2 separate regions of the Homo sapiens genome follow, and region 1 is linked to region 2. The links come from fine-mapping of genetic effects on gene expression. A gene starts in region 2. The other region holds a variant in brackets. All regions are shown on one strand. Distances are between the middles of the regions.

Region 1 (12,503 bases), 25 kb after region 2:
CAAAAAGGAGCCTGAATAGCCAAAGCAATCCTAAGCAAAAAGAACGAAGCCAGAGACATCACATTACCCAACTTCAAACTATACTAAAAGGCTACAGTAACCAAGCAGCATGGTTCTGGTACAAAAACAGACACAGAGACAAATAGAACAGAATAGAAAACCCAGAAATGGACCCATACACCTACGACGATCTGATATTCAACAAAATTGACAGAAATAAGCAATAAGGAAAGGACTCTCTATTCAATAAATGGTGCCAAGATAATGGCTAGCCCTATGCAGAAGAATGAAATTAGACTCCTGCTTCTCAACATATACAAAAATTAACTCAAGATGGATTAAAGATTTAAATGTAAAACTTAAACTATAAAATCCTAGAAGAAAACCTAGAAAATATCCTTCTCCACGTTGGCTTTGGCAAACAATTTATGGCTAAGTTCCAGAGAATAATTGCAACAAAACTAAAAATAGGCAAGTGGGACCTAATTAAAGAGTTTCTGTACAGCAAAAGAAATTACCAACAGAGTAAACAGGCTACAGAATGGGAGAAAATATTTGCAAACTATGCATCTGACAAAGATCTAATTTCCAGAATATACAAAGAACTTAAATCAGCAAGCAAAAAACAAATATTTTAATTGAAAATGTGTAAAGGACATGAACAGACGCTTATCAAAAGAAGACATACAAACGGCCAATAAACATATGAAAAAAATGCTCAACATTCACTAATCATTAGAGAAATGGAAATCCAAACCACAGTGAGATACCATTTCACAGTCATCAAAAGGCTATTAAAAAGCCAAAACATAACAGATGCTGGTGAAAAGATTGTGGAGAAAAGAGAACGCTTATACACTGCTAGTGGAAATGTAAATTAGTTCAGCTACTGTGGAAAGCAGTTTGGAGATTTCTCAGAGAACTTAAACCAAAACTATTATTCAACCCAGCAATTCTACTGGGTAATCCAAATATAAAATTTTTGTTACCAAAAAGATACATGCACTTGTATGTTCATTGCAGCCCTATTCACAACAGCAATAGAATCAACCTAGGTGCCCATCAACAGTGGGATTGTATAAAGAAACCGTGGTACATATACACCATGAAATACTACATGTCCATAAAAATAATGAAATCATGTTCTTTGTAGGCCATTATCCTAAACAAATTAACACGAGAACAAAAAACGAAATACTGCATATTCTCAATTATAAGTGGGAGCTAAATATTGAATACACATTGACATAAACGTAGCAACGATAAACACTCAGGACGACTAGATGGGAGAGGGAAGCACGGGCTAAAAATTCACCTATTACGTACTATGTTTACCACCTGGGTGATGGGACCATCATCAGCATTATGCAATATACCCATGTAACAACCCCGCACATTTACCCTCTGAATCCAAAACAAAAAGAACAACAACAAAAATGCCTCTTCTACTATAATGTAAAATCTATGAAGGGAAGAATTTAAAAAACTTAAAATATTTAACATTATACAAGTCATATGTGTTATATATATTTAAATAGTCATATTCAACTTAGTATGTTTATTCATTATTGCCTGCTTCATCCCTATTGAATGTAGTCTTGACAGGAATTTCTATCCTTTTTGTCTGTGTAGTTCATCAACGTATCCTCAGTGCCCATATGCGGAGTGAACAATTCAGAGTAATCAAGGACAACTCCAGCATTCCTAGTCTGAAAACTGGAAGGTTGAATTCGCTGTTCATAGGCGACAGGAGGAGTGAAGAGAGAAAGAGGGAGGAGTGAAGAGAGAAAGGGAGAGGAGCGAAGAGAGAGAGAGGAGAGAAGAGCTGCAGCCCTTTGGCAGCCCAGACCTGGGAGCTCCCGAAGCTAGGGCTGTGATTTGCCTTTTGGAGCCCTGAGGTTCCTGGAGTCTCCAAGTTTCCAGGCACCAATGCGTTCCGTTGCTGCGCTGCTTGGTGCAGCCACAGCCTTGCAGTGAGCCAGCACCCGTGCCAGCACCTGAAGCTGCCCATCCCGCTGTAGCAGCCATTGAGCCTGACTGTGTGCCAGACCCCACGCTCACTTCCTCACACATCCCTCACCGCTTCGCTCCAGTCTCTTTGGAGGCATGGGATCCACGCCAGTAGTGTCAGCTGAGCGCAGCCTGCCAGGATGAGTGGGCCCAGTGGACCCGAGCAAAACTCATGCAAAGGTGCCACCGCCACAGAGGTTTCTGGACAGAAAAGCAACACCCCCAAGGATCCCATAACAGTATCAGTATTTTTCAGTCAGGAGGAAATTGCCTACTTCTTGTTGAGCAGTGTTGCTAAGGGTGTATTTAGGAGTTGTATCAGTTTCTAGGGCTGCTGTAATAAATTTACTACGAACTGTGGCTTCAAATAACAGCAATGTATCCTTTCACAGTTTTGCGGGCCAGAGCCCAAAAGCAAGGTGTTAGTAGGGCTGTGCTCCTTTAAAGGCTTTAGGGAAGAGTCCTTCCTTGCCTCTTCCAGCTTCTGGTGGCTGCTGGAAGTCCTTGGTTTCCTTGATTGGTGGCCACATCACTCCAATCTCTGCTGCTCCAAATCTCACATCACCTTCTCCTCTTCTGTTATGAGGATACTTGTCATTAAATGTAGGGCCCACCTATGTAATCCAGGATGATCTAATTTCAATATCTTTGACTTAATTACATGTGCAAAAACCCCTTTTCACAGCTTCCAGGGATTTGGACATGAACATTTTTAAGTGGGGGGCCATTATTTGACCCACTACAAGAGTTCAAAGCCTTCTCGGGAAATACCATCCCTTACCCACTGACATGAGTCTGTTCATGCTGGGAGTGGTAGAAGATACCAGGACCTGAATGCCTTTGTTCCCATCTTTAACAGACACCACCCAAATTCAGTAATGGAGCAAGTGAATTTAGCACGAGTACATTTAATCTTCACACATATGTTGCTGGGTGCTAGAATTTAAAACATTGTTTTCAGCGCCCCCATTCTGACTGGTTCCCAGGGATGTAAGTCTCCTCAACACCCTGGCCAAAGCCTTACCTATTCTCTGAACCCCGCTCTGTTTTGTGCTATGGGTGGGAGGAGGGCATTACTTATTGACCTCCCTGTCCTCAATAACCTGGGTAACCGGAGACAGAGGAATCGAGCACCTCTATCCCTAAACCATCATGTTGGAAATTCCTTACTGAAGCAAGTCATTCACAGTTGTGTCTTCCAAACAGTGCAATTTCATTTGTGTGTTAGGACAGCAACTCTACTAGAAACTACTTCACATCAATAGAAACATCATTACAAAACAAGATCAATATTTCTGATTTTCATGCTTAGTGTTATTTTTTGAGAATGACCAGAAATTTTCATTTATATAGAGATATACTCTATTCTGATAATCAGAAAGAACAGATAATGACTTTGGAGAACATCAAGATTAAGGTTCCTAAGGTAAACATTTACTCCCTGGTCAATATAATATTAAAACCACTAGTACGTTTTACCTGAAAGAAAAATGAATCCATTTTTTTGGTCAACGAGTAATATAGGAAGTCCTATATCTGTTGCATTTATTTTTAAACTTCTTTTTAAGTATAAGAATACAGTACATATATGGAAAAGTATGCAGTTCATAGGTGCACAGCCTAGTCAATTATCACAAAGTAAACACATCTGTTTAATCACCATCCAGGTCAAGGAAAATACCATTGCCCACCTCACTGTCTTCAGGAAAGACCCCTGAGCCCCTTCTCTATCACTACCTTGTCCTTCTCACCAAAAGTAGCCGCTATCTTGATTGCTAAAAGGATTAATTTTGCCTGCTTTAGAATTTTATACTACATATATTCTTTAAGCTTTTAAAAGTCAAAATATCTGGAAACCACTCCTTTCATGATATTTCATCTCAGAGGTAGAATAATTATTTCTTTGTAGGTAACTCTCTGTCGGAAAGATGAATAGCTTACTCCATAAATCATTAGCATAAAAACTTATTTATAATTTACATGAGAAGTCAGTATGAAGAGTAACATTATGACCTTGTGGTCAACACAATCACACAAATGGAATTATTAAAAATAAAGATAAATGAACCATGGAATTTTCAATTCGTAATTTACCTGGTTCTCTCTGTTCCTGTCCTTCTCTCTTGATAGTAAGGTGACTTTAGCCTTTGGGACACAGTAACATTCTCTTGATTATTAAAAGTTTTTTTCTCTCTACCTGCTTGGTCTCTTGTTCATATGCAATTTTTCTCAACAAAAAGTGTTATTGTTTAGTAGTTAAAAAAAGAAATGACTTCAAAGTCAACAATATGTAGAAAGGCTTATATTTGGTGGCATATTTCAAAAATTATGAGTGACCTCAATTCTTATTAACACATGTAAGCATTATATTTACTCAATTCCAAGGAGAAATCAGGCGTAAGATGCAATGACAAAAGAAAAGGAAAGGCTGCATTGTATATAAAATCAGGTGTAGGTACAATCGAGTTTCACAAATGTTGAAATGTGAAGGGAAAAGTGCATCTTAGGATTTAGGAATAGTGCCATTTGCTGATGATATCAGCAGCGATATGGTCCAGAGGTGGCTTGATGTTATTATAATTTCCTCTAAAAATACAAAAAATAAAAATAAAAAGTTCAGGAAGTCATTTAGAAATTTACATTGATGTCCCTCAGCTGTCCCTAGAAGTAGGAACGAGTTACCCTTTAGACATAATGGGGACATTTGTGCGTGCTGTCATTTTAGGAGTTCTACAAAGCCCCACTTTCCCTCAAATGTTTATTGTCTACCATTCCTTTCTACTATCTTAAAAATCCCATCAAAACAAAACAAATAAAAGATAACTATGTGAGATGATGAATATGTTAATTTGCTTCACTACAGTTACCTTTTCACTATCTATATCCATCTTATAACATCACGTTGTATACCTTAAAAATACGCAGTAAAATTTATTTTTTAAAAAAGAATCCCATCTTTTTTTTTTTTTTTTTTTTTTTTTTTTGGATGGGGTCTCACTTTGTCACCCAGGCTGGAGTGCAGTGGAGCGATCTCCGCTCACTGCAAACTCCACCTCCTGGGTTCAAGCGAAGAATCCCATCTTTTGAATTAGTCCTTTGAACACTATTTGTACAAGATGTCTGGAAAAGGCAACTGGCTCCTGAATTTCTCCTCTAGCTTTCTCTTACTTCATTTGCATGGCTTAATTGTATATGTTAGCTAATTGTCATTATTAAAAGCACAGATCCTGACCTTAAGGGAATGAAGTGCTGGACAGATACCTCTTAATTTCCGCAACTGCAATCTCAGTTTACTGAGAATGGAAAACTCCCTCCAAGGCCTGAGAATTCTTGGTTAACACGGAGGGCATTTCCCAAGAGTGTAGAAGAGGAAGCCCAACAGGCTGAGTAAGCTATTTCTTCACCTTGTATATTTAAGTTAGAGTACTACCTCTTTTGTGTGAACTTTAGGGAGTGGTCAGTAAATGCCACTTATTTCAAATTGTTTCACTTTGGCTTGCTGGAAAGTAGATGTATTTTAGAGCAAGGTCATTTGGTATATTTGTAAAAATATACCAGACTTTCTTGATTATTTTCTTTAAATTAAGCTTACTTTTTGAAATATTATTTATTTTAAAGTAAGATTTTATATAAGTTCTCTAAATAGAATACCACTATCACTTCCCATAAATAGAAGATAAACCC[A/T]TTTCCCGTTTTGGGAAATCGCTTAGAAGAATGAATTTGGAATTTGGAATCAGAAGACCGGAGTAGTCATCTCAGCTCTGCTACTTCTGTGTTTTCTGGTTCTGGGAAAATCACTTGACTTCTCTGAGTCCCAGTCTCTTCATAAAAAAAAAAAAAAAAAAAAAAAAGGGACGGGATAACAATGTCTTCTTTCTTTCTCAAAATGACATTAACTAAATCAAGCTGCAAAGGGAAATATGTGGTTCTTTTTATTTGTAAGCTTAAAGTCCAAGCAGTTATGACAAATGGGTTTCACCTGAAGTGCAAATGCCCATTTATTCCTAGTGGTTCCTGGACCCCTTTATTGAGAAGGGTTGTGATGACCTGCCCCAAGCAAGGGGGGAAGAAGGCTGCTACTGCATAGTTCACGCTACTTAACTCCTGCCTCCTCTTTACCGAGCCCTCTTAGCTCACCAGAATCTGCATCTCAGAAGCCACCTCCCATTCAGCATGAACTTCCTTTTTATAAGAGCCCCCAAAAGTCACCTCAGGTAAATCACACTCATGAAATCTCTTTTCAGCCTAAAACTGTCTCCTAAAATGAAGCCCTCCCAGGCCCTTCTAATTCTGTCACCACTTTCTCACTCCTCCAAAATAAACTGCTTTTCAGTCCAAGGAATTCTTTAGAGAGAGAAGAAGAAACAAGGATCTGCCCGTGTAATTCTGTTGTTCTATCACTTTCTTTGCTTCATTATGTGTCACAGAGGTTTAGCAAGTACTCTCCAGAGGAGGCTGGGGTGGAGGAAAAATGTGTGAGGCCTGTGGCCTAGTTACTGTTGAAGTCTTCCTAGCAGCTTGCTTAATGCTAATTTCCTAGGCTTTGCAAATAGATCCTGCAGTGGAAACTGCTACCAATAGTGACGTAGTTGAAAAACCATGGGCCATAAAAAACTATTTATGACACTTCCCCCTTTTTCCAGCTCACACTCTGGAATGAACCAGTAAACAAATAATTAACACACAAGCAAAATTATTCTTCTAGGGCTTAAGGCTCTGTCCTAGTAGGAAAAGAATACTGTAGAAGGAAACTTGACAGAGAATACTTCGGAGAACTTAAGTGATGTTTTGATGCCCACAGATTCTGAAAGCTGACATCAACATTTCTAATATTTGTCCATTACTGTTTAATATGATAGGTTAAGTGTTGCTTCAGGGAGCTTGGAATTGTTCACTTCCAAGAAGTGAGGAGGATGCTTATTATTGCTCTTATGACTTCTCTTTAGAATTTGCATTGCTTTTACCATCCACAAACTGCTCCTTGGTAATTTTTATTACTAACAAACCCATAACCTGATTGGTTTCTCTTGAAATAGAGGGTATTGTGAAGTCACTCAGGATACAGATATAGTGCTGATGGGATCAATTAAAATGAATTGTAGTCCAGGAAAAGGTGCTTTGTGAAGCACTACGAGTGACAAAGATGAGTTTAGAAATAATCACTTACTTTATGACCACATTTCATAGTCTTGCTCACCCAGATATTTGTGACAATCATATTCTGGACCTACATAAAGGGTGAGCTACAGGAAGACAAACTTGCAAACATTACGATTTGAAAATAATTGATGTTTACTAACAAGCACATCATCATTTCAAAGCACTTTCAAGAAAAAGCATCCTCTTTCCTAGACAACTAAAGAGGGCTGTTAATTCAGATGGAATCATCTGAAAGCTTTTTCTTATCACCAACTTACTTATTTTCTTTTAATCCCCTCCCCAATATAAATCATAGCACCTCTGGGTGATAGTATTTGAAAATGACAAAAAGAACCCAGATGTTGACTAAAGGCCAAGGTTAATTGGATATGTGTGAGACTGTGCTGTAACTTCTTATTGAATTGGGTGGCTGAGCTGTATAGTTCTTGTGGCATTATTTCAGGATCTGAATTTAGTGATTACATAAGAAACTTCTAATGCGCTAAAGCGTTTAATAACCCATGTCTAAACTTCCCTTCCATAACTTCAGTTTTCGTCCAGAATCTCCGTTACTCAGATCTTTTCAACGGCTTCTTTTCTGGCTGCTGAGGAACCCAGAAACTTCTGACTGGCTTTGAAGGGTTACTTCCCTTGCATTTTTTCTCTCCTTTCTTATCCTTCTTTCTCAGGCTGCTCGCTGTAATATCCCTCAAACTGGATCTTCTCCTCCCTCTGTTCCTTCTCCCCTCACCTTCATTTTATCAACCAATTCCCTATGTTTGACTTTTCTTTTTCTCTCTCTGCCTCTCCAAGTCATCAAGACCCATTCAAGGTCCATTTCTTCCAGGGATCCGGATTAGTCCATTCTCTACCAAGCTTTCCTTCCTCTAAAATACCATTTTTAAAGCCATGTTATCCAGTAGAAATAAAATGCAAACCACACAAGTAAGTTTGTTATACTGTAGAAACAGATCAAATGAATTTTGACAATATAGTTTATTTAATCTATCATTTCTACCTGTAATAAACTTAAGATTATTAATGAGATATTTCCATTTTTTTTGAAGTCTTAGAAATCTGGATTATATTTTATACTTAAAGCACATGTCAGTTTGGACAAGCCACATTGCAAGTGTCCAGTGTGGCTAGAGCTTACTACATTGAACGGTCCGGGTTCAGAGCCTGTGCCACATTCTCTAGCTCTCAATCATGTACTTCCTTATTTCATAGCTTTCTACCAGACCAAATTGCAAACAACTCCGTAGAGTTGGCGGCTCCATTTTACACTTCCTCTGTCTTCACATTTTATTCCTGTGTGTGTAGTAAGCTATTAGTAATTGCCTATTGATGGATTGGTAATATTAATTTTATCTGTGACCTCTTAAACACAGCATACTTACTCCTACTACAGTTTCCTCAGGCTTGAAATTTCCCTCCTCTTCCCCATATTTATATTATGATTCAATAACCAAATCACCTCTGTTTTGTTAGATCTGAATCTCTGTGGGTATGTTGGATGAGATTATAAGAAATAGATGTGCATTATTTGCAGTTCTATTGCACTAGAGAGCAGCATTTTCACAGAATACTCATCGTTCAGACAATTCAGGCAAAATAGGATTTATAGCTGAAATCAATGGGATAATTGCCTCCATTGTTCTTTTTTGCTTTCCTAACAGAGACCTGGCCAACTCCTCGTAAGAGTCTCCTGGTCACAGAATCCAACCATGAAGCAGAGGCCCTTCAATTTGATTACAATGGCAAAGACACAGTTTTATAAGCTGAAACTAAATCACTGGGATAGGAATAGCTTATAAAATTGCAGGGAAGGAAGGTCGTGAAGAAGAAAAGGAAACCCTGGAGAGTACAAGGACAGATAGGGGACCTGAAGTAGAGGACAAGATGAGGAGATTACTAAATTCTGTCAGGGGTGCTAAAATGGGGGGAGCGTGCGAAACATACTATAACTGGGAACCTCAGTTTTAAAAATATAGTTTAACCACCCACTTTCCTTTCATCTCTTCATTCCTTTCCTTTCCAGACACTCCCCTCTGGCAATGCCTGCTTATTTAATTATGTTCTTGCTTGAGAAATTCCAGAGGCCAATCTTGAAACAAACCATGCATGGAGCCCTGAGTGCAGAATCCTCCTGCTTAGCGAGGAGTCACTGACAGTCCACCACCACTGGGCTGAATTCAAAATAATACCAACTAGACCTCCAGATGGGTGACTATCTGAGATAGCCATTGGAACAAGACACACAGACCCCGCCCCCTGCACCCCTCCTGCATGCCTCCCATACCAAGTTTTCCTTTGAACACTCTATGGTAAATTTTAAAATTTAAGATGGTTCTGTGACTATTGTTCACCATCTTCTTGGTTTGCTGCTTCTCCGATTAAAATCGCTTTTCCTCCCACCAACCTTCCTCTCTTATGTCTAGCTTTAGAGCAGCAAGCAGCTGAACCTGGGTTCAGTTACAATACAAACCTTACCTATTCCACAGTTTTATAAACAAAATGCTGAGGTGTACTATTTCAAGCCCTGTTATCATTTACTTCAAGGGAAACTTCCCCAAAACAGAATGATGGAATTGTAATTCTAGAACTCTGCCAATAAACAATAACATTCCTTGATTTTTCTCATCATATAAATTGTCAAAGTTACAAATGTTATCTCCATACACCTAATGTTTTAAGACATCTTACAGTCTTTATCGAGAATCTGTCAATTGGTTCTTATTAAATAAATAATTCATTTATTTAATTTTAAAGTCTTGTTTCTGTTTCTTATCAGTAACATCAATCTTAGCTCCCTGTTAACTTTCTTCTCATATAATAACAAATATATCTGCTATTGCTTAATAATGGAATAGCTTAACTTGGGTTAATTTTACATTTTAAACTTTTGGTGCCTTCACATGCTAGTGGAATTTTGACAGAAGAATCTTAAGATCACATCCAATTTAATAAAAACAAAGGCATAAATGAGGCCCCACAGTGGCTTCTGATGAAGGGCTTGAGAATTTACTGTGGCCTAGCTGTGAAAATTCTTTTAAATTTCTGCTGCTGCTATTTTTTTCATTCAGGACCTATGCATGTTGCCCATGCACTGGCCAATTTTTTAGTCAAAAACAGAGGCCTCAACATGTTCTTGCTGACTACTGAGAGGCTGGGGAGATCTCAGTCTCAATACGTATTTGTCACTTGTTAGCTGACGCCTGGCATTCTAAAACAGAAGCATCCCTCCTTTCCCTCACACATATTGTCAATGGAAATGGAAATGTTTACAGATGGAAGATTTTGCTTCTTAGTAATTTATGCCCATGTTTGGCAAAGTGTATACAGTTTGCAGACTGGGCCAATCCATAATGCTTATTTTTTTCTATCTTATGTTTGCTTTAATTTTATTTATTGAGATTTAATTTTAAATTTCTTACAGTTAATAATAAAAAAATTGGAATTTGTATTTTGAATGTCTGTGATTTTAAAATTTCATTCTCTAGAAGTTAATTTTTATTGCATTTTACAAAAGTACTGGCCTACAATGGGTCTGCTGTCACAGATAGTTCGAGAAATACTAATTTTATTCCTTGCTGTATGGAGTAGGCAAGAGATACCCCCAACCTCCAACCTTAGAATGGATTTTGATAGGAGAAAGGAAACACAGAGCCCCAGAAGAAATAAAATAGGGGGAATAATGGTTTCAGTGAAAAACATTGCTGCCCTTATTAATTTGCTCGAGGCTAGTCCCTGTGCCTGTTCACAAACCTATCTTTCTACAAGCTTTAATTGAATACATTCTATGTTTAAGGCATTGTCTTTGTTGTCGAAAGATATAGCCTTTATTTTCTTCTTGTCCAGTGGTTCTCAGATTTGCCTGCTGTATATCAGAATAACTTGGGAAGCCTTGTTAAAGACTGTAGATTCCAGGGTTCCATTTGAAAACCCACTGAATAAATATCTATGTGAATGGCATCTTCAAAGTTGTATTTTCAAAAGGTTTTGTGTGATTTTGATGTCTGGCTTGGTTTGGATAGCACTGCTTTAGCCCTTGGTCACCTTTACCTTGAAATGAGGTAACGTACAATTAGCAATGATTGGAATATAAAAAAGGTAATAAACTCAATAATCATTTATTAAATACTCTACTTTTCCACATGATGGATACAAAGAAGTTGTAGTAGTGAGGATAATTAATGCTGGATACTATAAGCACAATACTCTCACCTTAATGGCACCATGTAATAGATCTTTATATCTTGCTCACACAGGGTCCTGTGCATATTTTCCTGTGCGTATTTCCAGGCTGTTTCCCTGGTGAACTCTTCTCAAAACAGTAAATCAGAAATCCAGGCTCTTTCAGTTTGGAACCCCACCATCCTTATTACATGGCCTGTAGTTTGTCCATGAAAGAGACGAGAGAAGAAGATCATATCTGAGGGATTTTTGAAGACCAGGCCTATACGTGGCGTGCATACCTTCTGCTCACATTGCCTGTCTAGAAGTAGTCACGGCACCTCAATTAGATGAAAGGGGACAAAGAAATGACCTCTTCCCGAGTGACTGGGAAGGAAAAGAAGTGGTTTGGTGAATACATAGTGTTTTCTCTGCCACAGATATGTAAAATGTAATGTCTGTTAATCTTTTAAGCAGCCTCATTTTCCCCAAAGTAGTGGTAATAAGACCACTGAAGAGACACACTTTAAGCAAGTACAAGTTTATTACGGTAGATTCTATGAAGAGATTTGCAAAGGGTGTTTGTTCTGCTCCCTCTTTGCCATTTTAAACATTATATGGTGATGGAGACCACTTGATTTTGTCTTATACATTATATCATCAGTACCTCTAAGAATGGGTGTATATTGGCCATCCCCTACGAAGTCCCCAAATACTACTGTTGCCATTTTACATTCCAGACATTTTGAAGGCAAGTTATCTTCTGGTCTACCTCGTACTATCTTTGATAGACAAAAATTCCTTAATACACAAAAGGAGAAGCAGTATTGTTAGAGAATTGTTACAGGTTTCTAACTCTCTAAAATCTGACTAAATCTTGTCTAAAATAGTATTCTCAAATCTTAACTCATGAATTTTGCAGTCTCTTCGGGAGATGAATCATCCACTTTTGAAATATTGAGTGTAATATTGTGTATGATAAAATACTAGTAGCAAATGTAGGGAAATTATACGTAGTAACTGTTAAGAGTTTAGGATCACAGGATAGTATAGAGAAGATAGAAGTCTGCTGGCTTGAAGAATCTTTAAAGGTTTTATTTACTTTCATGATACCTGATGACAGTGCAGGGGCAAGCTAGAATTTTTCTTAAGCCTGAACAAAAGTAACTTATGCAGAG
Region 2 (12,503 bases):
TTTTTAAGTTAAATGTAAAACAGCCTCAGGCAAGTCCTTCAGGAGGTATTCAACAGAAAGCACTGTTATCATAGGTGACAGCTACATGTGTGTTATTGCCCCTAAAAACCTTCCAGTGGGACAAGATGTGGAGGTGGAAGGCAGTGAGGTGGAAGGGAGTGATACTGATGATCCTAATCCTGTCTATGCCTAGGTGAAAGTGTGTGTGTTTTAGTTTTTAACAAAAACGACTAACAAGTAAAAAAAAAAATTTAAAATAGAAAATAGAAAAAAGCTTCTAGAATAAGGATACAAAGAAAAAATATTTTTGTATAGCTATACAATGTATTTGTGTTTCAAGCTAAGTATTTTAAAAGTTAAAAAATTAAAAAGTTTACAAAGTTAAAAAGTTATAATTTTTTATTGAAGAAAAACTGTTAAGATAAATTTGGTGTAGCTTCAGCGTACTGTGTTTATAGTCTACAGTGGTGTACAGTGTTCTAGGCCTTCACATTAATTCACCACTCACTCACTGACTCACCCAGAGCAACTTCTAGTCCTGCAAGCTCCATTCGTGGTAAGTGGCCTACACAGGTATACCATTATCTTTTATACCATACTTTTACTGTACCTTTTCTCTGTTTGCATATATTTAGATAAATATTTACCACTGTGTTACAACTGTCTATAGTATTCAGTACAGTAACAGTTGTACAGGTTTGTGGCCTAGGAGCAACAGACTATACCATACGGCCTAGGTACATAAAGGCTATACTATCTAGGTTTGTGTAAGTACACTCTATGATGTTTGCATAATGACAAAATCGCCTAATGATGCATTCCTAAGCAATGTGTGATTGTACTATAATTGAAGACTTGTTATCTAAGACTGAAAGTAAAAAGAATTGCAATTTCACCTAAGCAAGTCTAAAACTGTGAAGTCTATTTATAATAATAGCAATACAAAGCAGCTAATAGGCAAACTATGATATACCTATCTTTGCCATATGATTGCTTTGGGAGCTAACATTTGATCTGTAAATGTATGACAAAGTAAACAATTTTACTTAAAGAATTTCATCCACATCTTGTCAAGAGAGTTCAGTCTGATGGAAAGCACTGACTTCTATTTACAGAGCATTAGATGAGTGCTTTTATCATATTATGAGTAGGCATACAGAGCCTGGCAAAACAGTTAACTCTAAGTATGTACAGAAATGGTTGAACACAACGACAGTTTTAACACGTGTATTTGTAATTTCAAAAATTCATTTAGGTAATATTTACTTTTAAATATGTTGTATCAATTTAATAGTCTTAAGAGACAGCACTAGATATAAGCCGTACAGCTTCTTTAAAATATCCACTGTTTTTAATACAATGTAAGCAGTCAGTTTACAATGATCAAATATAGGAATGTAATCTGAATTGAAATGGTAATGACACTACTGCTGTCATAACTAACAACAGCAAACTGGAGGCCAACATAATGAATTAAGTTAACATACAACCATAAAATTATATTGCAAACATATTTTTCTTTCATTCTTTTAGGTTAAAAAGGTGGATAATCATAAAGGCAATATTACAACTCTAATATTTCATCATTAAACTGAAAATAAAAGTATTTCCTAAAACAGAACTGAACCCTGGAGCAAAATCTGATTGAATTATAGGGAAACTTTTACCACGTTGTGAAAATTGAACTATTATACTGCTAGTTACACTCTCACTCCTAACAGAATAAGAAAAAAAAAATGGGCCGGGCATGGTGGGTCACACCTGTTATCCCAGCTCTTTGGTAGGCCGAGGCAGGTGGATCACCTGAGGTCAGGAGCTCAAGACCAGCCTGGCCAACATGGTGAAACCCCACCTCTACTAAAAATACAAAAAATTAGCCGGGTGTGGTGGTGGACACCTGTAATCCCAGCTACTCGGGAGGCTGAGGCAGGAGAATCTCTTGAACCCGGAGGTGGCAGAGGTTGCAATGAGCTGAGATGGCGCCACTGCACTCCAGCCTGGGCGACAGAGAGAGACTCTGCCTCAAGAAAAAAACAAACAAACAAACAAACAAAAAGAATAAGAAAGAAAATGAAGGACAAAGATCATACTGAATTGCTTAGTTTTAAATCCTACCAAAAGAAATAGCCTGGGAAATGAAATGTCACAGAGAAGTATAATCAGGAGAGCTGTACAATTATTTTACTAATACTTGAAGTCATCGTCTTTGGTGAGAAAAATCCATACATGCAAATGCAGCTGAAAAAAATCAGCTCAAAACCAATAGTTGTTTATGTACCTATCTTACGTACATGTAGTGCTGTCTACTCCAGAGAGTTACCAAACATTAGCCAGTCTTTTGAGGGAAGCCAAGATTCAAATTGAGTGAGACGGTGGCTTGCTCACAGGGTTCATGAGAGGTTTCCCAATACACTTTCTGGAAATAATCCCATACATGCAGACATGATTACATTAATTAACATCTGCTAAAACTGTTAGTAGAGTGCTAAGTTTGAGGTTTTGCTTTTTCTTTAAACGTCTGTTAAAAAATCAACCATCTCTTCCCTGATTGGTATTTAGAAAGGTGGTTGGTCCACTGCTATTGTAGTGAAAATTCTACAATCATAAAGCCCTCACTTCTTGTTTTTTAGAGACAGGGTCTCGTTTTGTCATCCAGGCTGGAATGCACTGGCAGGATCATAGCTCTCGGTAACTTCAAACTCTTGGGCTCAAATGACCCTCCTGCCTCAGCCTCCCAAGTAGCTAGGACTACAGGTGCACATCACCACGCCCGGCTAAGTTTTTAATTTTTTGTAGAGACAGGGTCTACGTTGCCCAGGTTGAGCTTGAACTCCTGGCTTCAAGTGATCCTCTTGCCTCCGCCTCCCAAAGCTCTGGCATTACAGGTGTAAGCCACCTTCTCCAACCTGGCTCTCAATACTTGTAACCATGCTGTTTATTTTCTCCCAGCCCAAAGAGAAGCAGGATCCTAAACCGTCCACTTTCCACAACAGGAGCTGCCCAGGACCACTTCAAGGACAGTGAACTGTTTACAGTACCAGAAAGTTCACAACACTTTCTCAATCTTCAACATCAGGGAAGACTGGAAGGTGAAGTTCATATCACTATCTGGCCATTTCTCACAGTTCCAAGTTTCTCAGACAATAGGTAGGCTAACCTAGTCCTCCTGGGAACTATCTAATTAACGTAGAATAGAACCCGAGGGCAGACTTGAAAAACAGAAGTCCTCCTTGGTTTACTTTGTTTCTCTGAAAGCAAATTGTGGAGTGCCAACATAGCCAAACAAAATATTTTATCAACTTCATAAGGTGCTTGTAATTTTTTCCTGGAGCAGGTAAATGCTGGCTTAGTGAACAATCTGGAATGTGGTAATTACTCTCGTTCTTGTTTCAGATGTACTATCAGCATGTAGCAGTTTCCAACTGATTCAGGGTTTTCCTAAAGTGGCAGGCCTTGGCAGAGGTGGTGACAACAATGCCCGTGTCAAATGACACCGTATTTCAAGTATTCTGACTCCAGGTTATTAATATCCCCTATATGATAGTCTTGTTTCTGTGATATTCACAGATTATGTTAAAAGTTTCCCAAAGTCTGAGAAAAATCATATCTTAACAGTATCTTTTTTTTTTTTGATCCTTTGTACAAAAGTAGAAGTAATGCCAGACAGATTACGTACCCTTGTTGTGAACAACTGGTGCATGGCAACTGTTTGAATAGAAATTTACCAACTGCCACAACCAGGCAACTACTCTCCCAGAGCCTAACAATCTCGATTGCATCTGAAAGGGCCACCCCTCCTGGGAAAGTGCAGGACCTCCCTCCTGTTTCTGAATACAAAGCCTGGTGGTGTTCAACGCGGCCAGATAGACCCAATGAGCACACGGACATGTAATCTGTGCACTTCTTTAGACAACTGATTACCATCAGTCAAGTGATGCCCAAGTCACAATAGTCACTTCCTTTAAGCAAGTCTGTGTCATCTCGGAGCTGTGAAGCAACCAGGTCATGTCCCACAGAATGGGGAGCACACCGACTTGCATTGCTGCCCTCATATGCAAGTCATCACCACTCTCTAGAAGCTTGGGCTGAAATTGTGCAGGCGTCTCCACACCCCCATCTCATCCCGCATGATCTCCTCGCCGGCAGGGACCGTCTCGGGTTCCTAGCGAACCCCGACTTGGTCCGCAGAAGCCGCGCGCCGCCCACCCTCCGGCCTTCCCCCAGGCGAGGCCTCTCAGTACCCGAGGCTCCCTTTTCTCGAGCCCGCAGCGGCAGCGCTCCCAGCGGGTCCCCGGGAAGGAGACAGCTCGGGTACTGAGGGCGGGAAAGCAAGGAAGAGGCCAGATCCCCATCCCTTGTCCCTGCGCCGCCGCCGCCGCCGCCGCCGCCGGGAAGCCCGGGGCCCGGATGCAGGCAATTCCACCAGTCGCTAGAGGCGAAAGCCCGACACCCAGCTTCGGTCAGAGAAATGAGAGGGAAAGTAAAAATGCGTCGAGCTCTGAGGAGAGCCCCCGCTTCTACCCGCGCCTCTTCCCGGCAGCCGAACCCCAAACAGCCACCCGCCAGGATGCCGCCTCCTCACTCACCCACTCGCCACCGCCTGCGCCTCCGCCGCCGCGGGCGCAGGCACCGCAACCGCAGCCCCGCCCCGGGCCCGCCCCCGGGCCCGCCCCGACCACGCCCCGGCCCCGGCCCCGGCCCCTAGCGCGCGACTCCTGAGTTCCAGAGCTTGCTACAGGCTGCGGTTGTTTCCCTCCTTGTTTTCTTCTGGTTAATCTTTATCAGGTCTTTTCTTGTTCACCCTCAGCGAGTACTGTGAGAGCAAGTAGTGGGGAGAGAGGGTGGGAAAAACAAAAACACACACCTCCTAAACCCACACCTGCTCTTGCTAGACCCCGCCCCCAAAAGAGAAGCAACCGGGCAGCAGGGACGGCTGACACACCAAGCGTCATCTTTTACGTGGGCGGAACTTGTCGCTGTTTGACGCACCTCTCTTTCCTAGCGGGACACCGTAGGTTACGTCTGTCTGTTTTCTATGTGCGATGACGTTTTCTCACGAGGCTAGCGAAATGGGGCGGGGCAACTTGTCCTGTTCTTTTATCTTAAGACCCGCTCTGGAGGAGCGTTGGCGCAATAGCGTGTGCGAACCTTAATAGGGGAGGCTGCTGGATCTGGAGAAAGTGAAGACGATTTCGTGGTTTTGAATGGTTTTGTTTGTGCTTGGTAGGCAGTGGGCGCTCAACACATAATTGGTGGATGAAATTTTGTTTTTACCGTAAGACACTGTTAAGTGCATTCAAAACTCCACTGCAAACCCTGGTAGGGGACAGCTCCGGCACTGCGGGCGGGAATCCCACGGTCCCCTGCAAAGTCATCGCAATTTTGCCTTTACATGTAAGAATTCTCTCAAGCATGATTTTCACACTGGGGAATGTCATTTTTGCTAGTTGCAATATGTGGATGAGTTGTTTTTTTTTAACTTTTGAAAAACGTACCATTCTGTTTGATGTGTAAAAAACACAAAGATTTTTGAAACCTTGCGTCTTTTGGTCTGCAGGTGTATAGATTCCACTTACTACAGATGAGTAGCATTTACACCACTCAGATGTGTAAAAAAACAAAGGTTTTTTAAACTGTGTGCCTTTTGATCTGCAAGTGTGAGATGGCACTTACTACAGTGAGTAGCATTTAATCTTTTTCATCACTAAAAATCACACAGAACGTTTTAATCATTCACCGAGGAAGAAAGGGAGGAATAAATACACAAAATGGCTCTCAACGTCTACACCTTCTGCAGAAACAGACCCTTTTCCTACTGTTCTATGCTTTGTGAAAGTTGATCATACAAATTGGGTCATTCTTTTTATACCCAACTAAAATAGTGGGGGTAGGGGGTAGAAAAGCACTTAGGACAAATGACACTGCTCCCACAGTGTAATTCTCTCCAAGTCCAGCTGCTGCAACTGCCCGTTGTGACCTGAGACCAGTTTTATCTAATAGTTGCTAAAATGACCTGCTGCAGCTCTAATTTTATCTACCACCATCACTCACCAGTTGAAACTCACCAGCTCCTCAGATCCTTAATAGTGCCAATGAATTTTCTCAAAGAGCACTATGTAACATTTCTCTTTTTTAACAAAACCTCCCCCTTTTCTTTGTTGTGTGGATATACCGAAGACCATCTGATCTACATGTATGCCCTAATTGCAATTCTTTCTTCCCAAATAAATCACTTAATTTAGAGATTCATCTCTGTATTTTTATTTTGACTGACAGCTTATAACAAGTAGCTAGCATTTACCAAGTTTCTACACTGAGTTGTACTTCACTTATACGTGGAATTAAAAAACAACTGAATTTATAGAAACAGAGTAGACCCTTGGTTGGGGGGCTTGGGGGGAAAGAAAATTGTAGGGTAGGGTACAAAGTTGCAGTTACGTCTAATACATCTAGAGATTTAATGTACAACATGAGGACTAGCGTTAATAATTGTGTTAGTCCATTCTTACACTGCTATAAAGAAATAACTGAAACTGGGTAATTTATAAAGAAAAGTTTAATGGCTCACAGTTCTGCAGGCTGTACAAGAAGCATGGCTGGATCAGCTTCTGGGCAGGCCATAGGGAACTTAAAATCATGATGGAAGGCATAGGGAGACCCCAGACTTCACATGGCAGGAACTGGGGGAAGAGAGAAATGGGAGGTGCTACATACGTTTAAACAACTAGATCTTGTCAGAACTCACTATATAGTACCAAGAGGGGACTGTACAAAACCATTAGAAGCCACCCCATAATCCACTCACCTCCCACCAGGCCCAACCTCCAACACTGGGGATTACAGTTGAACATGAGATTTGGGTGGGGACAGAGATCCAAACCATGTTATTCCAACTCTGGCCCCTCCCAAATCTAATGTCCTTCTCATATTGCAAAATACTGTCGTGCCTTACCAACAGTTCCCCAAAGTCTTAACTCGATCCAGCATTCATTCAAAAGTCCAAAGTCCCAAGTCTCACCTGAGACGAAGCTAGTCCCTTCTACCTATGAACCTGTAAAATCAAAAACAAGGTAATTGCTTCAAAGATACAATGGGGGTATAGGCATTGGGCAGATACTGCCATTCCGAAAGGGAGAAATCTGCCAAAAGAAAGAGGCTATAGGGCCCCATTGCAAGTCTGAAAGCCAGCCGGGCAGTCATTAAATGTTAAAGCTCTGAAATAATCTCCTTTGACTCACACCCAGGGAACACTGATGCAATGAGTGGGCTCCCAAAACCTTGGGCAGAACCACCCCTGTGGTTTTCCAGGGTTCATCTCCCACAGCTGCTCTCATGGGCTAGCATTGAGTGCTTGCAGCTTTTCCAGGCTGCAGGGTGCAAGTTGTTGGTGGATCTACCATTCTGGGGTCTGGAGGACGGTGGCTGTCTTGTCATAGCTCTGCTAGGCAGTGCCCCAGGGGACTCTCTGTGGGGGCTGCAACCCCACATTTCTTCTCCTTGCTTCCCTAGTAGATGTTCTCCATGAGGATTCCACCCCAGTAACAGGCTTCTGTCTGGACATCCAGGCTTTTTCATACATCCTCTAAAATCTAGGCAGAGCTTCTTAAGCCTCAACTCTTGCATTATGTGCGCCCGCCGGCTTCACAGCTTATGGAAGCCACCAAGGCTTATGCCTGGCACCCTGTGAAGCAGCAGCCTGAACTGTATTCTTACTGGTGAAAGTTATCTGAGTTACCAGCTGCAAATCCATGTGGGTCTGCAGCAACCTCAATTCTTGCCTCCTCAGAAGAAAGAATTTGACCAAGAGGCATAAGGCAGAAAAAGAGACTGCGACAAGTTTCAGAGCAGGAGTAAAAGTTTATTAAAAAGCTTTAGAACAGGAATGAAAGGAAAGTACATTTGGAAGAGGCCCAAGTGGGCACCTTGGAGGTCAAGTGCCCTGTTTGACCTTGAACCTAGGATCTTATACACTGGCCTACTTCTGACATCTTGTGCCCCTTTCCCTTGGTCCTTCCCTAAGGGTGAGCTTGCCGCATGCATGGTGCCCTGCTTGCACTTGGAAGGTGAGCGTGTGCAGTGTGTTTACTGGAGTTGTATACATGCTTACCTGAGGCTTTCTTCCCTTTTCCGGTGGAATGCCCCCAAAGGTCATACTTCACCATTTTGCCTCTTAATGTGCATGTTAAGCCCACTCTCTCAGTTCCTGAGATCTTATTGGAAGCGCCCAGTTACCAATTTCAGGTGTTTCTATCTATTGAGAAGTTGCCTCTCCCTGGTGCTGGCTGCAACCAATTACTATTTTAGAGAGGCAGTATGACAACTGCCTGACCATCATCTGATGGTTGCCTGACATTCCTGGTGGGTGGTGGGGACTTCTCTCTTACCCCACTCATGCCTGATTAGCTACCTACTGTAACAGTACCTGGGCCCCTTTGAGCAGCTGGGATTCAGGGAGCAGAGTCCCAAGGCTGTAAGAGGGAGCAGGGGCCCTAGGCCTGGCCCAGGAAATGATTCAGTCCTCCTAGGCCTCGGGGCCTGTGATGAGAGGGACCACCATGAAAGCCTAAAATGCCTATTAGGAACACTTTTACACTGTTGGTGGGACTGTAAACTAGTTCAACCATTGTGGAAGTCAGTGTGGCGATTCCTCAGGGATCTAGAACTAGAAATACCATTTGACCCAGCCATCCCATCACTGGGTATATACCCAAAGGACTATAAATCCTGCTGCTATAAAGACACATGCACACTATGTTTATTGTGGCACTATTCACAATAGCAAAGACTTGGAACCAACCCAAATGTCCAACAGTGATAGACTGGATTAAGAAAATGTGGCACATATACACCATGGAATACTATGCAGCCATAAAAAATGATGAGTTCATGTCCTTTGTAGGGACATGGATGAAATTGGAAATCGTCATTCTCAGTAAACTATTGCAAGGTCAAAAAACCAAACACCACATGTTCTCACTCATAGGTGGGAATTGAACAATGAGAACACATGGACACAGGAAGGGGAACATCACACTCTGGGGACTGTTGTGGGGTGGGGGAGGGGGGAGGGATAGCATTAGGAGATATACCTAATGCTAAATGACGAGTTAATGGGTGCAGCACACCAGCATGGCACATGTATACATATGCAACTAACCTGCACATTGTGCACATGTACCCTAAAACTTAAAGTATAATAATAATAAAATAAAAATAAAATAAAATAAAATGCCTGTTAGTCCTATGAGTCTTTCTCCCCATTGTTTTGGTTATCAGCCCTTGCCTTCCTTTTAGTTATGCAAATTTATGCAGCCTGCTTGACTTCCTCTCCTGAGAACGAGCTTTTCTTTACTACCACATGGCCAGGCTGCAAAATTTACAAACTTTTATGCTCTGCTTCCCTTTTAAGTGTAAGTTCCAATTTCAGGTCATTTCTGTGCTCATGCCTATGAGCATAGGCTATTAGAAGCAGCTAGGTTACTTCTTGAACACTCTGCTGCTTAGAAATTTCTTCTGCCAGATACCCTAAATCATCATTCTTAAGTCTAAGATTTCACAGATCCCTAGAACAGAGGAACAATGCAGCTAAGCTCTTTGCTAAAGCATAGCAAACCTGACCTTTACTCATTCCCAATAAATTTCTCATTTCCATCTGAGACCTCCTCAGCCTGGACTTCACTGTCTATATCACTATCAGTATTTTGGTTACAACCACTCAACAAGTTCCTAGCGAGTTCCAAACTTTCTCTCATCTTTCTGTCTTCTTCTGAGCCCTCTAAAATGTTTCAACTTCTGCCTGTTAGCCGGTTCCAAAGTCACTTCTACATTTTCAGGTATCTTTATAGCAATGCCCTTCTTCTCAGTAACAATTTTCTGTATTAGTCCATTCTTGCATTGCTATAAAGAAATACTTGAGACTGGGTAATTTACAAAGAAAAGAGGTTTAATTGACTCATGGTTCTGCAGGCTGTATAGGAAGCATGGCAGCATCAGCTTCTGGGGATGCCTCAGAGAACTTACAATCATGGCGGAAGGCAAAGAGGGAGCTGGCACTTCACATAGCGGGAGCAGGAGGAACAGAGAGAGGGAAAGTGGGGGAGGTGTTACACACTTTTAAACAACCAGATCTCGTGAGAACTTACTCACTATACAGTACCAAGAAAGGATGGTGCTGAACCATTAGAAGCCACCCCTGTGATCCAATCACCTCCAACCAGGCTCCATCTCCAACGTTGGGGATTGCAACTGAACATGAGATTTGGATGGGGATATGGATCAAACCATATCAATATTGTATACTGGAAATTTGGTAAGAGAATAGATTTTAGATAATCTTATCACATACATAAAAGGTAGCTATGAAATGATGGATATGTTAATTTGCTTGACTGTAGTAATCACTATACACGTGTATATCAAAACATTATGTTGCCCATTTTAAATACATACAATTAAAAAAAATTACACTTAATCCTCCTGACATCTCTAGGATGTAGATATTGTCATCCCTAGGATGTAGATATGTTTTACAGAGGAGATAACTGGACCTCTGAGAGCTTGAATTATTTACCCAAGGCTACATACTTTGATAAATTAGGCCAGTTTCATGCAATTCTAGAGCTCACTGAGTCCAGAGGACAACAACCTGGTACCAAGTTGATGATAACTCATCTCAGATAACTCCTATGGTGGTTAATACTAGCATCCCCAGTTTAGAATAAGACTGGAACTTGGATTAAGTGCCTGGGAGGGGAATACAACTCCAAAAGCAGGTTTTCCTACTTCAAAATTTGGCCTACAGACAAATAATTTTCCTTTTCTCGAATAGGTTTTTCTGTTTTTTTGTGATATCAACCCTGAAACAACTATGTTTCCTAAGAGAGAAATAATCAACACCAAAGCCTAAATTCTACATGATCATGAGAAATAAAATATATGGTGAAAATGGCTCTGTATGCATGATGCTTTCTAGCCAGTGACTGTGTATCTTCCCCCCACCTAATCCAACAGGTATTTAGTCATTGTGTAGCAGTATAGTAGCTTGTATGTCTTTCATTAGATTGGAGCAAAAAAATCAGGAGAGAAACAATAATTATAACATAGTACAGTGGTCCAAAATACTTTATTGCCTGAAAGGGTAAAAGAGGAGGACAAATATTCTAGCATATATGCAGTCTTCTGGGAACCAAAGAGAAAATGATATTTAAGTATCTAGTAATGTGATTCATATTAGCAGCATGAAAGATGGCTTGGGAGGGCTTTAACCCTTATCCTTTTCATACTCTGTTAACTGGTTTATTAACCACATCAAGTAACTGTAGCATCTAAATGAAAATAGGTTTTTCTACAGAAATATGTCTTCAAGTGAGAAGCCTAGTCCTCCATTTTCAACCAGAATGACACCCTTAAAAGACCTTATATAGAAATTTTTGAACTCTTCACATATAATTAATGCAGTCATACAAAAAGACTCTACAACTAGGGAAGCAGAAAAGCATATGGTTAAGAGAGTGGGCTCTGGAATCAGAGCTGGTGTGAGTATTGTCTTTGCCTTTGATTAGTTATGACATTTTGGGCAGTACTGTATTTCTCTGTGCCTCAGTTTCCCCAGCTACAAAATGGCATGCAGAATAATTTCTCCTAGGATCATTGTGAGGGTCATGTGTGATCAAGCAAGCTAAGGATTTAGAACAGTACATTCGAGAAGTGGTTCTAATCTCAATTTTACTAACTATGCAGAGATAATAAAAGCAATAACAAATGACTTATTAGCCTTTTAAACTATGTACCTATGTATGATTCCAATAACTATTATATCAGAATCCAGATAAACTTCCTGCTGTGTCAAAAATGCCAGTTGTTGTCAGGAAGGCATTCTTGCTATTAGTGTATTTCAAAAATGCAATATCTGCTGCTGATTCAGAGCTAGAGCTGAGAGCTTGTTGATTAGCTCCCATTTATCCAGATTACAGCAAATTAGATTTAACTGTGACTGGCATGTGAAAGATCTTATGTAGGACATGGAGGAGGAATACCGCTCCATAAACCATAGTGCATTTAATTTCTTTTTCTTTTTTTCTTTTTTGAGACAGAGTTTCACTCTTGTTGTCCAGGCTGGAGTGCAATGGCACGATCTCAACCTCCACCTCCTGGGTTCAAGTGATTCTCCTGCCTCAGCCTCCTGAGTAGCTGGGATTATAGGCATGCACCACCATGCCCCGCTAATTTTGTATTTTTAGTAGAGATGGGATTTCTCCATGTTGATCAGGCTGGTCTCAAACTCCCAACCTCAGGTGATCTGCCCTCCTTGGCCTCCCGAAGTGCTGAGATTACAGGTGTGAGCCACCGTGCCTGGACTTAATTTCTTTTAAATAATGAGATTTTATGTGGTTGCCTTAATCATTACGGACTAGGCGGTATGCACTTTATGGTACATTATCTTTTGGTTGGAATGTGAATGAACCAACACCTACCTGAGGTACTTCTAGGTGAAATCTTGATTC

What was found.
Region 1: its variant is fine-mapped to the expression of C9orf72 in blood mononuclear cells (TOPMed, PIP above 0.99). The same link has a PIP of 0.9 or more in monocytes after interferon gamma.

The regions. Positions count from the first base shown.
Region 1 is chr9:27,593,915-27,606,417 of GRCh38, forward strand. No RefSeq gene overlaps it. Among named protein-coding and RNA genes, the nearest start is that of C9orf72, 27 kb to the left of the region's middle. The variant A/T (reference allele first, on the strand shown) is at 5,695.
Region 2 is chr9:27,568,845-27,581,347 of GRCh38, forward strand. C9orf72 (C9orf72-SMCR8 complex subunit) reads right to left here and starts at 4,637. Exons shown (of 11, transcript NM_018325.5): 1 at 4,587-4,637. RefSeq lists enhancers at 4,031-4,120, 4,719-5,246 and a silencer at 4,631-4,710.